Homo sapiens: one gene and its partners. The protein of the gene in region 2 purifies or fractionates together with the protein of the main gene of each other region. This does not show direct contact. Each region holds a gene or a part of one and is shown on either strand. Other genes may lie near its edges.

Region 1 (3,500 bases), on a different chromosome or scaffold from region 2:
TACTGAGACTTCTTTTTCCTTAAAATTGACACCTAATGTCCAAAACTAAGACTAAAGAAGGTTATATATATCCCCACCAATAATTGGGTCCACGCACCTCTTTCAGAGCTTATTAAATGGTATAGAACTAACTAGTCCCGCTATCCCAAACATCACCTAGCCCATTAACTTCTCATTCCCAGTTGTGAGTTGTCAGCCTAGTAGACAGCTGAACAGCTTTGCCCTGCCGTCTTTCCCAGGCAAGGGGGCAAGGTTAGGGGTGGGGAGGAGATGCTTATCTTGCCCTGAATTCAAGACAGGACAAATTCAAAGATCTGGAATTGTCTCTAAAAAGAAGAGTTTAGTATCCCTGCTAAATGTTTGCTGAGCTGTGAGCTCACCGTGGTGTAGCCATCAAAGTGGAAGACAACGTGGGAAACCTGTGTGTTCCTCAAAGTTTAGGGATGTACATAAATTATGTATTTAGAGGGAGAGAGAAATATGTGTGTACCCTCTGCCTACTTTATTGGTTTTAAATTTAGGAATATAATTTCATTGCTTCTAAAATGTCTTCCCACTTCCATGTAAAAAGTCCAGGGTGTCATTTAAATCTAGTTTTTTGTTTTGTTTTGTTTTGTTTTTTGTTTGTTTGTTTGAGACGGAGTTTTGCTCTTGTTGCCCAGGCTGGAGTGCAATGGCACGATCTTGGCTCACTGCAACCTCCGCCTCCTGAGTTCAAGTGGTTCTCCTGCCTCAGCCTCCGAAGTAGCTGGGATTACAGGCACCTGCCACCACACCCAGCTAATTTTTTATGTTTTTTTAGAGATGGGGTTTCACCACGTTGGCCAGGCTGGTCTCGAACTCCTGACCACAGGTGATCCACCCGCCTCAGCCTCCCAATAAATCTAGTTTTATAATGCTACTTTTAAAGAGTTGCATATATAGGCCAGGTGTGGTGACTCACGCCTTTAATCCCAACACTTTGGGAGGCTGAGGTGGGCAGGTTACTTGAGCTCAGAAGTTTGAGACCAGCCTGGGCAACATGGCAAGATTCCGTCTCTACTAAAAATACAAAAAATTAGCTGAGCATGGTGGTGCATGCCTGTGGTCCCAGCTACTCAGGAGGCTGAGGTGGGAGGATGGCTTGAGCCTGGGGGGCAGAGGTTGCAGTGAGCAGAGATTGTACCACTGCACTCCAGCTGGATGACAGAGTGAGAACTCTGTTTCAAAAGCAAAATAAGTTGTATATGTAATAGGTTTTTTTCTTTTTTTCTTTCTTTCTTTCTTTTTTTTTTTTTTTTCTGAGACAGGATATCACCCTGTCACCCAGGCTGAAGGGCAGTGGTACAATCACCGCTCACTGCAGCCTCGACCTCCTGGGTTCAAGTGATCATCCCACTTCTCAGTCTCCCAAGTCGCTGGCACCACAGGTGTGCACCACCACACCCAGCTAATTTTTGTATTTTTTGTAGAGAGGCGGGTCTTGCCATGTTGCCCAGGCTGGTCTCAAACTCCTGGGTTCAAGAGATACAACCACCTCGGCCTCCCAAAGTGCTGGGATTACAGGCATGAGCTAGAGCTACCACACGGGGCTATTTCTTTAAAAAAAAAAAAATGAAATATATACTGATTTTGAAAAGAAAAAGCCACTAAACATCTGTCTGAAATTTGGTGGGGAAAAAAGAGAGATGAGATGAGATACTTCCTGAGCACACTGTAAATGAAGATGTTTAAATTTTGAATTATGGTGTATAGAATTTTTAGAAGAGGGATTAAACAATACCTGCTATCTGGTTCCAAGTGAAGAGTAGATTGCTTTAAAAAAATTCTCTATGCTTTGTTGCTAAAAATTCCTTTATAAATAGTGGAAGTAAAATTTGACCATTCTGTTTCTATACTTAAATGTTTTTAAATCCTTCTTAAATATTGAAAACCCTGTTCTTATTTGTATAAGCCAGTTGTAAGTTTATTTGAGGGCAAAGTAAAAAACATTGGTGATAAAAGTGATGTTGTGATTATAGTAAGCTGGAATTTAAACTTAGAACACAGTGTAAGCCTTGCCAAATTGATAGTTTACATTCTTTCAGCTATAACTACTGTGAGTTATTCAAGGAATATTGAGTTGTTATTTTACCTATTCAGTCATCTGGTGACCTGTAAATCATTTCTGTGTGTTTAGAGAATTAAGGTAGTTGTGGTTTTTTTTTATTATTATTTGCAAACCACACTAAGCATAAGTAGGGCTTGATTGGGGTAGCCCTTAGCCCCCGCTTAATAATAATCACCAGCTTCAAGTCTATGGGTATCTTGCTGCCTTGATGACAACTATAGATTTTCTTCTCCCTTGACCCATGATTTTTGTTTGTTTGTTTGTTTTGTTTTTTTGTTTCTTTGAGACAGAGTATCTTTCTGTCACCCAGGCTGGTCTCAAACTCCTGGTCTCAAGTGATCTGCCCACCTCAGCCTCCCAAAATGCTGGGATTACAGGCATGAGCCACCGTGCCCGGCCCCATGATATTTTTAAACCCTGAGTCTCCCATATTCTGATTTTTCTACTGTTGCCCCAGTCTCATTGCTTAGTATATAAACCAGAATAAAATTGATCCTCAATTCCATCTAAGTCCTACTGTTTCTTGGCTGTTGTTTTATTAAAATCATGAAGAAAGCAAAAAAGGCATTCCATCACAACTATTGAAAAGTGTTCTAGAAGTTACAGTCATTGCTATAAGACCAAACAGGAAGGAAAAGATGAGGTATGAATGTTGGAGGAGATAAATGATTATTATTAGCAAATAATGGAAAATCCAAGAGAATAAAGACTAAGACATCCTAAATGGAAAGTTCAGTTTGGTGATTAATTACAAAGTAAATATACAAAAATAAATGTAGTATTCCTGTGTATCTGAAAGAAACAGATCATGTAATAGGAAGAAAAGATCTCATTCAGAAAGTAATGTGACATATAAAAAATAAAAAACTAACATTTTAAAAGAAGTACACAGGGCCTATATAGAGAAACTACAAATCTGTACTGAGAGATGTAGAAGATTTCAGTAAACAGATGTCGTGTTCCTATGTCAGAAATGTAAAATTATGGATTTACCCCTAGTTATTGCAGTCATTGCAGTGACATTAGAAATCCTAATGTGGGCCAGGCGTAGTGGCTCACACCTGTAATCCTAGCGCTTTGGGAGGCCGAGGTGGGCGGATCACTTGAGGTCAGGAGTTCAAAACCAGTCTGGCCAACATGGTGAAACCCTGTCTCTACTAAAACTACAAAAAAATTAGCCGGGCGTGGTGGTGGGCGCCTGTAATCCCAGCTACTCGGGAGGCTGAGGCAGGTGAATCACTTGAACCCAGGAGGCAGAGGTTGCAGTTAGCTGAGATCTCGCCACTGGGCAACAGAGCGTGACTCTGTCTCAAAAAAAAAAAAAAAGAAAAAAAGAAAAAAAATCCTAATTTGAATAATATTTGGTGGTTGTCAAAATGATTCTCAAATTTATCAGAAAGGATAAGGGGAG
Region 2 (3,178 bases):
CTTCCTTGGCTCACCCTAGTTGGAGCCTTGCCATATTAGAGATTTAATAATATTTCTTAAAGGAATGATTAAATGAGTGTTGCCATATTTCAGTTTGTTGCCATATTTGAGTTTGTTAGTAGAGTTTGACTTAGGAATTAGGGCTATCCAAATATTTCACTGGTCTTAACATTCTTCCTTTATGAGATTCCTATAGGAGCTGCTAGTTACATAAGGAGCAATAACAAATGCAAATCAGAGAACCATTTATTACTGCAGCCAGAATTTGATTTTCTAATAATACAGAGGTTCTGGTTAATTTTATTTGCAGTACCCAGTCTAGTTGGAAGACCTCAGAGACCCTCTTACTCCCCACTGAGCTCCAAATCTGAATCTCCATATTTCAGCATCTTCTGATTGGCTACATGACACAGGAGACTGAGGCAGTAAGAAAAGTGTTTAAGCACACACGAAGAGAAGGAGGAGCCTCCCTGTATGCGGGTCACGTGCTCACACATGCTCTCCAATCCAAGGATTCCATCTTGAAAGAAATTTGACCAATTGGATCAGCCTTCTCTGTGGGGAGGAGGAGGCACAAGGAAGGTTGTAGGGAGGGAAAATGAAGGTTTACCACCGTATTTCATGTTGTATATTTATGAAGACTGTTCTTTCATTAGCTGAGAAAAGTGAACAGTGTTGCCTACATCCCTTAAACTTCTTGCACATTTAAAAAATTTTCAATAAACATTTAATCTCCCATTTAATAAGATCATTTCCTTTGACTTGTGACCCTCAGTTTCATCACAGCAGTGAGCCTGGGCCACCCCAAGGCTTCTCTCAGTGCTTGCTGCACCTTGTCATTGCGGAGAGTGAAGATGAATGGGTTCAAGAGGGGTGTGATGATGCAGCTCAGGACGGAGGCACCTTTGTTGAGCAGTTTGGACTGAGCCTCTGACATACGAATGTAGAGAAAGATGGAACTGCCATAGATGATGACCACCACTGTAAGATGCGAGGCGCAAGTGGAAAACGCTTTCCTTCGCTCAGCAGCTGTAGGGGCCCTGAGAACAGTGGCAAGAATGCAGGCATAGGAAACTGAGGTCAGAGCCAGTGAGCCCAGTAACACCAACGTAGAGAGCATGAAAGCCACCAGTTTCAGCAGGTGGGTGTCCCCACAAGAAAGCCTGAGCAAGGGCCAACTGTCACGAAAGAAGTGGTCAATACCATTGGGGCCACAGAAAGGCAGGCTGGCCATGAGGACAGTGGGGCAAAGGACCCAGAGGAATCCAGCTAGCCAGGAGGCCAGCACTAGTTGGGAACAGACATGGCCATTCATCAGGGTCTCATAGCGGAGTGGTCGGCAGATTGCCAGGTAACGATCCAGAGACATGACGGCCAAGAGGAAGAAGTCAGTGGTGCCTAGAAAGAAGTAGAGGTAGGACTGGATGATGCAGCTGACAAATGAGATGGTGTGATCCCCCGTGAGGATGACGACAAGCATCTTGGGAACCACAACAGTTACCAGCAACAGCTCCAGGAAGGAGAAATTCCGCAGGAAGAAGTACATCTGTATGTGCAGGCGTTGGTCTATCCAGCTGAGCACAATAATTAGCAGCTTGCCTGTGGCTGTTACAATGTAGGTCACCATTAACCCCAGGAACACCAGGAACTGTATGAGGTGGCTACTGGGGAAACCCAGAAGGACAAAGCTTGTTACCTGAGTCCAGTTTTCAGGGTTCATCTTCAGTCACCTGCAGGGGAAATGAAACAGAACTCTGTAACTGGTCTATAGCTACCAATCATCATTTAACCAATCGGTAAAATAATATTGAACACCCAACACTTCCTTACATTCTGAGAATATGTTGATCTATAGTTTGGTCTGCACGTGACTTACAAAGAGAGAAACAAATTACAATAGTAAGCAGCATGGCAATATTGAACATCAATTATATATCTGAAAATTTACACGGTGCACAGTATCTCTTCTCCTAGCTACTCTTAAAACTATGTTTTACTATTTTCAAAGATAAGAAAAGGATGACGAAGGGAGTTTAAGTGACTCTTCTATGATCAGGTAGGAAACAGGTGGTAGAGGCAGGATTTCATACTGAGCTTCTGTGACTCCAGCACATGCTGCTGATACTGTTGAGCTCAGGCAGAGAACCGTGTGAGTAGTGTGGCTTTAGACGAGTCCAGAGGAGTAGAGGGGTCAGAGAAGACTTCACAGAACAAATGCACCATGAACAAATTTTACTGGTATTAAGAACTCTCATTTTAGTGTTTATGGTCCTTCTGTGTCCTGGCTTGACATAAAATAACAGAATTTAAAAATCTGGGCTCTCGGTATACTCAGAGATTTAATTTTCATTAGTCAGCCATGAAGCCAAATAGGACCGGATTGTGCAAAGCCCAGTCCTGTCATAAAGTGTTATTTTTCTTTTTTCCCCCAATCCAGACTCCTGTAGAATGCTAGAAATCCTTCTTCCTTGTGGAATGCTTACTAGCTTCTCTTACCTTCAGCTTGCTCAATATTCTAATAGTATAAAATGAGGAATAAGGGAGAATGGTCTCAAAGGAGATGGTATATATCAACTTGCCTTCTCAACTTTTGCCTTAATTTGGAGATATGTTCATCTTGTCCTTGGAGCTTTTGGAATCCTGTAAAATGTATCCACATGTTTTGAAGGACTGGATTTCATTAGACAATTAGATATCTTGGGTTCTTTTTTTTTTTTTTAAACATCTAGCACCAAATACTCAGAATCACATAGATTTGGCCTAATCAGGGAAAATGGAAAATGTTCTAAGACAAAAAGAATGAAAATGAGCATCAAGTTACATTGTTTAATTGACAAGGAATGAAGTGTTGAGAGTTTAGACAGTTTAACTGAGGAATATCTATTACTTCAGACCAACAGTGTTAAAGACGAGGAGCACAGATATTTTCTCAATTCTGTCTGAAGCTACTTTAACAGATAGTATTGAACTGAGGCAAGAAATCCAGGTTTGAAGGATATTTCTGTTCTGTTTACATCAATTTTGGAAAGAATAAGTCTGGGATTTAAGTAGCTAAGTAATAATAATGCTTCATTCTGCTAGTCTAGGGCTTGTGTCTCCAAAATCAAAGAAATACCATAATAAAACCCAGCAAAGGAGGCCAGAGCACTGTTTCAGGATAACATAATCATTTCAGATA
Region 3 (3,500 bases), on a different chromosome or scaffold from region 2:
GCAATAGACACTGCAGAGTACTGGCCGGGGGTGAGTTGAAAAACTACCATTGGGGCCAGGTGCGGTGGCTCACGAGGTCAGGAGATCAAGACCATCCTGGCCAACGTGGTGAAACCCCATCTCTACTAAAATATAAAAAAAAATTAGCCGGGCGTGGTGGTGCATGCCTGTAGTCCCACCTACTCAGGAGGCTAAGGCAGGGGAATCGCTTGAACCCAGGAGGCAGAGGTTGCAGTGAGCCAAGATCACGCCACTGCACTCCAGCCTGGCAACACAGCGAGACTCCATCTCAAAAAAAAAAAAGAAAAACTACCATTGGGTACTATGCTCACTACCTGGGTGTAATATACTATGTAACAAATCAGCACATGTACTTCCTGTATCTGAAATAAAAGTTGAACTTAAAAAAGGTATGGCATTTAGAACAAACACAGCCAGGTGCAGTGGCTTTCCTTTGTAAACCCAACACTCAGGGAGACTGACGCAGGAGAACTGCTTGGAGGGCCAGGAGTTTCAGACCAGCCTATGCAACATACTGAGACTCCAAATGTACAAAAATACTTTAAAAATTAGCCGGGTATGGTGGCAGATGCCTGTAGTCCCAGCTACTCAGAGGCTGAGGTGGGAGGATTGCTTGTGCCCAGGAGGTCGTGGCTGCAGTGAACTGTTATTGCACCACTGCAGTCCAGCCTAAGTGTTAGAGTGAAATGCTGTCTCCAGAAAGAAGAAGAAACATAAACAGAGATAAAAAGTGAAAAATGAACACCTCCCAAAACAGGAAGAATATAAGGTTATTTATCTCCCCAAGACCACTTGCCCTATTTTGAGGGTTCCAAGATCAAGATGAAAAACTCTTAACTTATTCAAGAATTGAAGGAACTGCAGAGACAGCTTTTCCAGTGGAAAGAACCAAAGCCTAAGTCAGACCTGGGTGTACATCCCCAAGGCTCTCCTCTCATTCTCCTCATGGCTTCATTCGAGTTATTTTTTCATAGGCAAAATATGGTTATTTCACCTATCTCAGTGTAACCCAAGTGTACCTGATCATAAAAATAATCTGGAGTGCTTGTTAAAAACCATTAAAGGTTCCCACGTCTCATCCTAAGAGGGAGACTGGGAGAATGTAGCCTAACAAGCACCCCAGGTGAGTCTCATAAGACCAGTTGTGCAAACACTGTTTTACCTTAGTCATTTCCATAGAGAAAAATTAAATTTATGATGTGGATGAAGAAGGCATATTGAACATCTCTGTCAGTAAATACTTTGGAGACTTCTGTCTCTCACTTACATTTTGCTGTAGCTTACAAAAGCATTTATTTGGATGATTCCTCAGCAAGCCCTGAACTCTCACCCATGATCCAATCCTTGGAAGCCACTCTCAAGAAAGATTTTCAATGGTTTCCTAACTGCCAGATTCACTCCCCTCATCAGGCCTGTCTTCACAAAAGCCACCGTTGTGGCCAGCTCCTCATTCTGGACATTTTTCTTTCCTGGTTTCTACAGGACCAGTCCCTCCTGGGTCCTCATCTATCATTCTTTTTTTTTTTTTTTGGGGGGACGGAGTCTTGCTCTGTCGCCCAATGGTACGATCTCTGCTCAATGGCAACCTCCGCCTCCCAGGTTCAAGCGATTCTCCTGCCTCAGCCTCCCAAGTAGCTGGGATTACAGGTGCCCACCACCATGCCCAGCTAATTTTTGTATTTTTTAGTAGAGGTGGGGGTTCACCATGTTGGCCAGGCTGGTCTCGAGCTCCTGACCTCAGGTGATCTGCCCGCTTCAGCCTCCTAAAGTGCTGGGATTATAGGCGTGAGCCACCGTGCCCGGCCTCACCTATCATCCTTATAGTTTTCTATCTATAGAGCAGGCATTTTCCTGTTTGTACTACATGTTCTACCTAGATGGTCAATGTCTACAGCTTCACCTCCATCTATAGTATGACAGCCCCCAAACCTGTACAGGATTTATAGTTCACCATCTCTCCCCTATCCTAGTTCTGCATCTTCAGCAGGATCTACTTGTTATCACCATAACAGGCTCAGGAAACTTCTTTCCCACAATCTATTCCTGCCACTTAAAAGGGTAGCCATCCATCCTATTACCTAACATTTAAATCAGACATCAACTCTTTGTGCTCCCTCATCCTCTACATTTAAACAACAGCCATGTACTCTTAATTCTATTTCTGAAGCTTCTCTTAAATCTTTTCTGGCTGGGCACGGTGACTCACCCCTGTAATCCCAGCACTTTGGGAGGCCAAGGCGGATGGATCACCTGAGATCAGGAGTTCAAGACCAACCCGGCCAACATGGTGAAACCCTATCTCTACTAAAAATACAAAAGTAAGCCGGGTGTGATGGCATGCACCTGTAATCCCAGCTAATTGGGAGAGGCTGAGACAGGAGAATCACTTGAACCTGGGAGGCGGAGGTTGCAGTAAGCTAAGATTGCACCACTGCACTCCAGCCTGCACGACAGAGCGAGACTCCGTCTCAAAAAAAAAAAAAAAAAAAATCTTTGCCTTCTTCATTACCACAGCTCTTGCTCTAGAAGATTCTCATTTCTCATCAGAACACCTTAAAATGCTTTCTAACACATTTTCCTGCCTCAGGTTTCTTTCCCCTCTCTTCTTCCCACAGTTTTGTTTCTGTAATAGAGATCTGATAAACTTCCAAGGTTCCCTGTGCCCACTGAAAAAGAAAGGTCACACTGCTTGGTGTGGCACATAAAGCCTTTCACAATTTGGTTTCGGTGTACTTTCCTAATCTCATTTTTCTGCCTCTTGTACCAGCCCAACCCTCTCTCCCCTCTCCTTCCCAGCTCCACACTCCCCCCTTTCCATGGGGTGAACTTTTCAAAAGTTCTCTTGTCTATATTTTCCTCCATGTCTTAAATTATTCCACCTGCCAAATGAACACTGTGTATAATAAATTCTCCCATCTTTAGAGGAAATACTTAAGAACCAATCAAAATATTCAACATTTCTTGAAAGAACTGTAATTACTATATAAGGTTTTATATAATTCTAGTTCAAAGCAAAGGAACTTCACTTTTTAATGTACCTTCTATTAAATATTTAATTTCCATTAGGTTATTTTAAAATACTGGCAGTCTCATGGATCCCCATTTTTATCTTTGCAGATCTGTAGGGGTCCTGGAGCCCTGGCTTAGGAACCACTGCTCTGTGCTCACTGTACAAACTCCCTGCTCTGTGCCCTTGCTCACACTATTCTGTTGCCTACACTGTCCTTGATATTTTTCTCATTCCGGGACTCAATAACTTGCCACTTCCATTCTTTTCACTCACACTACTTTTATGTCACTTATTATCCATTCGAGGATAGTTAATTCTTTAACACAATGATCTGTCAGGCTTGGAGCTTCCTACGGAAAAGACATTTATCTACTCTCAGGGCCTAGCAGTACCTGGGCCCCAGTAAAACTAAATAAATGTTTGTTGAATGAATAAACCTTGGTAGGACAAACATATTATCTACACAAAA
Region 4 (4,252 bases), on a different chromosome or scaffold from region 2:
AAGGCAGGCAGATCACTTGAGGTCAGGAGTTCGAGACCAGCCTGGCCAACATAGTGAAACCCCGAGTTGGGATGAGTATTTAAAGTGAGCGAGCGTAGAAATACTATGCTCAGCCAAGTGAGTACTTAACGAAATGAGTGTAGAAGGCTGGGGGAGGTGGCTCACGCCTGTAATCCCAGCACTTTGGGAGGCTGAGGGGGGCGGATCACCTGAGGTTGGGAGTTCGAGACCAGCCTGACCAAAAAGGAAAAATCTTGTTTCTACTAAAAATACAAGATTAGCTGAGTGTGGTGGTGTATGCCTGTAATCCCAGCTACTCGGGAGGCTGAGGCAGGAGAATCGCTTGAACCCAGGAGGCAGAGGTTGCAGTGAGCTGGAGATCACGCCATTGCACTCCAGCCTGGGCAACAAGAGCGAAACTCTATCTCAAAAAAAAAAAAAAAAAAAAAAGTAAGTGTAGAAATACACCTATAGCAGGACACAGTGGCTCACGCCTGTAATCCAAGCACTTTAGGAGGCCAAGCCGGACAGATCACTTGAGTTCGGGAGTTCAAGACCAGCCTGGCCAACATGGTGAAACCCCATCTCTACTAAAAATACAAAAATCAGCAGGATGTGGTGGTGCATGCCTGTAATCCTAGCTACTTGAGAGGCTGAGGCAGGAGAATCACTTGAACCCTGGAGGTGGAGGTTGCAGTCAGCCTGGAGCCACTGCACTCCAGCCTGGGCGATAGAGCGAGACTCCGTCTCAAAAAAAAAAAAAAAGAAAAAAGAAAAGAAATACTAATATAGCATTCCAACTTGTAAGCTTCAAATGATGTGGCAATGATTTTCATTTCCTTTTCTATTTCTTTTTTTTTCTTTTTTTTTTTTTTTTTTTTTTTTTTTTAGCAACAATGTCTTTTTCTTTCACCCAGGCTGGAGTGCAGTGGCATGATCACAGGTCACTGTAGTCTTGACCTGGCTTCAAGCAAACCCCCCATCTCAGCAGCGAGTAGCTGGGACTACTGGCCTGCTAGCCAGGGCCCTGCACCCAGCAAATTTTTTTTTTTTTAATGTAGAGACTGGGTCTTGCTATGTTGCCCAGGCTGATTTTCATTTCTGTTAGACTCATCTTTTTTCTTAATTCTTGCTTGAATTTCTATTCCAGTACAATAATGCAAGTCAAAGGAAGGTTAAAATATACCTTATTTAAACTGCTAATCTTTGTAATTACTGACAGTGCATCTCTGACATTTCTAAAATGAAGACACCTTCCTTTTCTACAAACTCAGAAAATGCCAATGAACTATCTTAACATTTTTTAAGTTCAAAACATTTTGGTGACAGACACAAGTCTACTGAAAGGTATAATAGTAGATAATCATGTTGCTTTGCTATACTGGCACCACCATTTATTTGTCATCTGTAAAATGACAGCTAGTGCCTTACTCATAGTAGTCAATAAATGTTCCTTTTCTTTCCTTCTTTCATTGTTTCAATGTGACCTACTCTTCACTGATACTTTAACACGGAATATAGGACGTCTTCAAAGACACTTAGTAATATAGAGGCTGATGTAAGAACACACAAATAAATAATACTATGTTTAATTTTTCAAGTTAAAAGGACTTCTTCACCTCATTTTGTCCACTGTACCAAACACCTTAAATTGCTGACGAATTTGGTTCTTTCAGCTAACAATGTCAAAGTTTTAGCTGTTTTAAAACAAATCTTCTTGGAAAAGCTTCAACACCTTAAAAATCAGTACAGTGGCCCACTGAGGTGGCTCATGCCTTTAATCCCAGCACTTTGGGAGGCCGAGGCGAGCAGATCACCTGAGGTCAGGAGTTGGAGACCAGACTGGCCAACATAGAGAAATCCCATCTCTACTAAAAATAGAAAAGTTAGACCGGATGCGGTGGCTCACGCCTATAATCCCAGCACTTTGGGAGGCCGAGGCAGGCGGATCACGAGGTCAGGAGATAAGAGACCATCCTGGCTAACACGGTGAAACCCCATCTCTACTAAAAAATACAAAAAAATTAGCGGTGCGTGGTGGCGGGCACCTGTAGTCCCAGCTACTCGGGAGGCTGAGGCAGGAGAATGGCGTGAACCCGGGAGGCGGAGCTTGCAGTAAGCCGAGATCGTGCCACTTCACTCCAGCCTGGGCGACAAGAGGGAAACTCTGTCTCAAAACAACAACAAAAATTTAAAAAATTAAAACAAAAATCAGTACAGTTTTCTCAACAGTGTATCTTTTTTCCACTTAACTGGGACTTTGGGCTACGGAAAACGTTAACCAGTACTAGTAAGGAAGCTCAATTTGCCTCTACACTAATTGGGAGCGCTGAAAACACCAGGCCGTGTCACAGCCTCTTCAGCTGTCAGTGAGACCCGCCACCTTCACCTTACCAGGTAAGGAAACTGAGGCCCAGGGGAAGGAAGGGGCTTGCCTGCAGCCACCTCGTTCTTTCCTGAAAAGACCAAGCGTCTGACAGCAGCAGTGTTCTGCCTCGAGGGCTATCAGACGGCCCCGCGGAGCATGGATGAGACCTGTCCTCCCTCGCGCCGCCTAACCCCGGGGTGAAAAACAGGCGCCCCTTCACGCAGTGCCACAGGCAGGGACTCAGAGTAGGTCTTGGCCCTAAAAGTGCGCCTTCTAGGGGATCCATAGCTGCTGCCCACCGGTCCTCCCAGAAGGAGGGGCTGTCACTCACCTGCGACTGGAGGGAACGCAATCCCCTACTTGGCGTTGGCCGTACACCAGGAGACCGAACTGCAAAGCGCGATGGCTGCCGTGGCCCCAGTTCGCATCAGCCCCTTCCGGGCCGGCGGGTGCCTCACTAGCGACAGTCCGCAGGACCGCGTCGCCGAGCGCCCTAGGTTCCGCCTCCTGGCAGTCTTGCCGCCAATTCCCCAGTTGAGCGAGGCTGCTCGCAACCCCTAACACCGCCTGGGTCTCCCAGCCGCCTGGTCTCCCCACACCCGCCCGCCCGAAGGGATTTTAGGGGCCTGCGTGCCGAGAAAGGAACACCCCATGCCTCCCTAGGGGAAATTACTTTTGGCATTTTTTTTTTTTGAGACGTTGTCTCGCTCTGTCTCCCAGGCTGGGGTGCAGTGGCACGATCTCGGCTCACTGCAGCCTCCACCCCCTGGATTCAAGAGATTCTCCTACCTCAGCCTCCCCAGTAGCGGGGACTACAGGCACCCGCCACCACTGTCCGGCTAATTTTTTTTTTTTTTGAAACGGAGCCTCGATTTTGTCGCCCAGGCTGGAGTGCAATGGCGCGATCTCAGCTCACTGTAACCTCCGCCTCCCGGGTTCAAGCGATTCTTCTACCTCAGCCTCCTGAGTAGCTGGGAGCACAGGCGCGCACCACCATGCCCGGCTAATTTTTGTATTTTTAGTAGAGACGGGGTTTCACCATGTTGGCCAGGCTGGTCTCGAACTCTTGACCTAAAGTGAACCGCCCGCCTCGGCCTCCCAAAGTGCTAGGATTACAGGCGTGAGCCACTGCGCCCGGCTAATTTTTGTATTTTTAGTAGAGACCGGGTTTCATCATGTTGGCCAGGCTGGTCTCAAACTCCCTAGCATAAGTGATCCACCTGCCTCAGCCTCCCAAAGTGCTGGGATCACCACCGCGCCCTGCCTAAAATACATTTTCAAAGTACACGTGCTTATTGAATTCATTTTTTTTTCTTTTTTTGTTATTTGTGCTTATTGAATTCACCAGTGATTTACACAATGTAGCTACGTACCAGATAATGTGTTGGATGCTGGTTATTCAGCTTTTATTCAGCTGGTTATTCAGTTGTTTTATAGACGGTCTTGGCCAGGCGCGGTGGTTCACACCTGTAATCTCAGCACTTTGGGAGGTCAAGGTGGGTGAATCACCTGAGGTTAGAGTTCAAGACCAGCCTGGCCAACATGGTGAAACCCCATCTCTACAAAAATACGAAAATTACCCAGGCATGATGGCAGGTGCCTGTAACGCCAGCTACTCGGTAGGCCGAGGCAGGAGAATTGCTTGAACCCGGGAGGTGGAGGTTGCAGTGAGCCGAGATTGCACCATTGCACTCTAGCCTGGGCGACAGAGCGAGACTCTGTCTCCGTCTCAAAAAATAAATAAATTAATTAAATTAAAAATAAATTTAAAAATTATATATATATATAGACGGTCTTGCTCTTTCTCCCAGGCTGGAGTCCAGTGGTGCTATCATAGCTCACTGCAGCCTCAATCTCTTGGGCTCAAGGAATCCTCCCATGTAG

The links. Proteins that work in one complex are often made in the same cells at the same time.
Region 1: the proteins of OR6T1 (region 2) and MBTPS2 purify together in Homo sapiens (affinity purification with mass spectrometry; one large-scale study listed by BioGRID and IntAct). This does not show direct contact.
Region 3: the proteins of OR6T1 (region 2) and EIF2AK3 purify together in Homo sapiens (affinity purification with mass spectrometry; one large-scale study listed by BioGRID and IntAct). This does not show direct contact.
Region 4: the proteins of OR6T1 (region 2) and SAR1B purify together in Homo sapiens (affinity purification with mass spectrometry; one large-scale study listed by BioGRID and IntAct). This does not show direct contact.

What each region holds. Positions count from the first base shown.
Region 1 is NC_000023.11:21,863,617-21,867,116, forward strand, and holds part of MBTPS2 (membrane-bound transcription factor site-2 protease), read left to right. Parts: intron 1-3,500. UniProt on the Homo sapiens protein: Zinc metalloprotease that mediates intramembrane proteolysis of proteins such as ATF6, ATF6B, SREBF1/SREBP1 and SREBF2/SREBP2.
Region 2 is NC_000011.10:123,942,119-123,945,296, forward strand, and holds OR6T1 (olfactory receptor 6T1), read right to left. Parts: upstream 1,721-3,178; coding exon 749-1,720; downstream 1-748. UniProt on the Homo sapiens protein: Odorant receptor.
Region 3 is NC_000002.12:88,617,465-88,620,964, forward strand, and holds part of EIF2AK3 (eukaryotic translation initiation factor 2-alpha kinase 3 isoform 1 precursor), read right to left. Parts: intron 1-3,500. UniProt on the Homo sapiens protein: Metabolic-stress sensing protein kinase that phosphorylates the alpha subunit of eukaryotic translation initiation factor 2 (EIF2S1/eIF-2-alpha) in response to various stress, such as unfolded protein response (UPR).
Region 4 is NC_000005.10:134,630,029-134,634,280, forward strand, and holds the start of SAR1B (small COPII coat GTPase SAR1B), read right to left. Parts: upstream 2,801-4,252; 5' UTR 2,700-2,800; intron 2,172-2,699; exon of another isoform or gene 2,049-2,171; intron 1-2,048. UniProt on the Homo sapiens protein: Small GTPase that cycles between an active GTP-bound and an inactive GDP-bound state and mainly functions in vesicle-mediated endoplasmic reticulum (ER) to Golgi transport.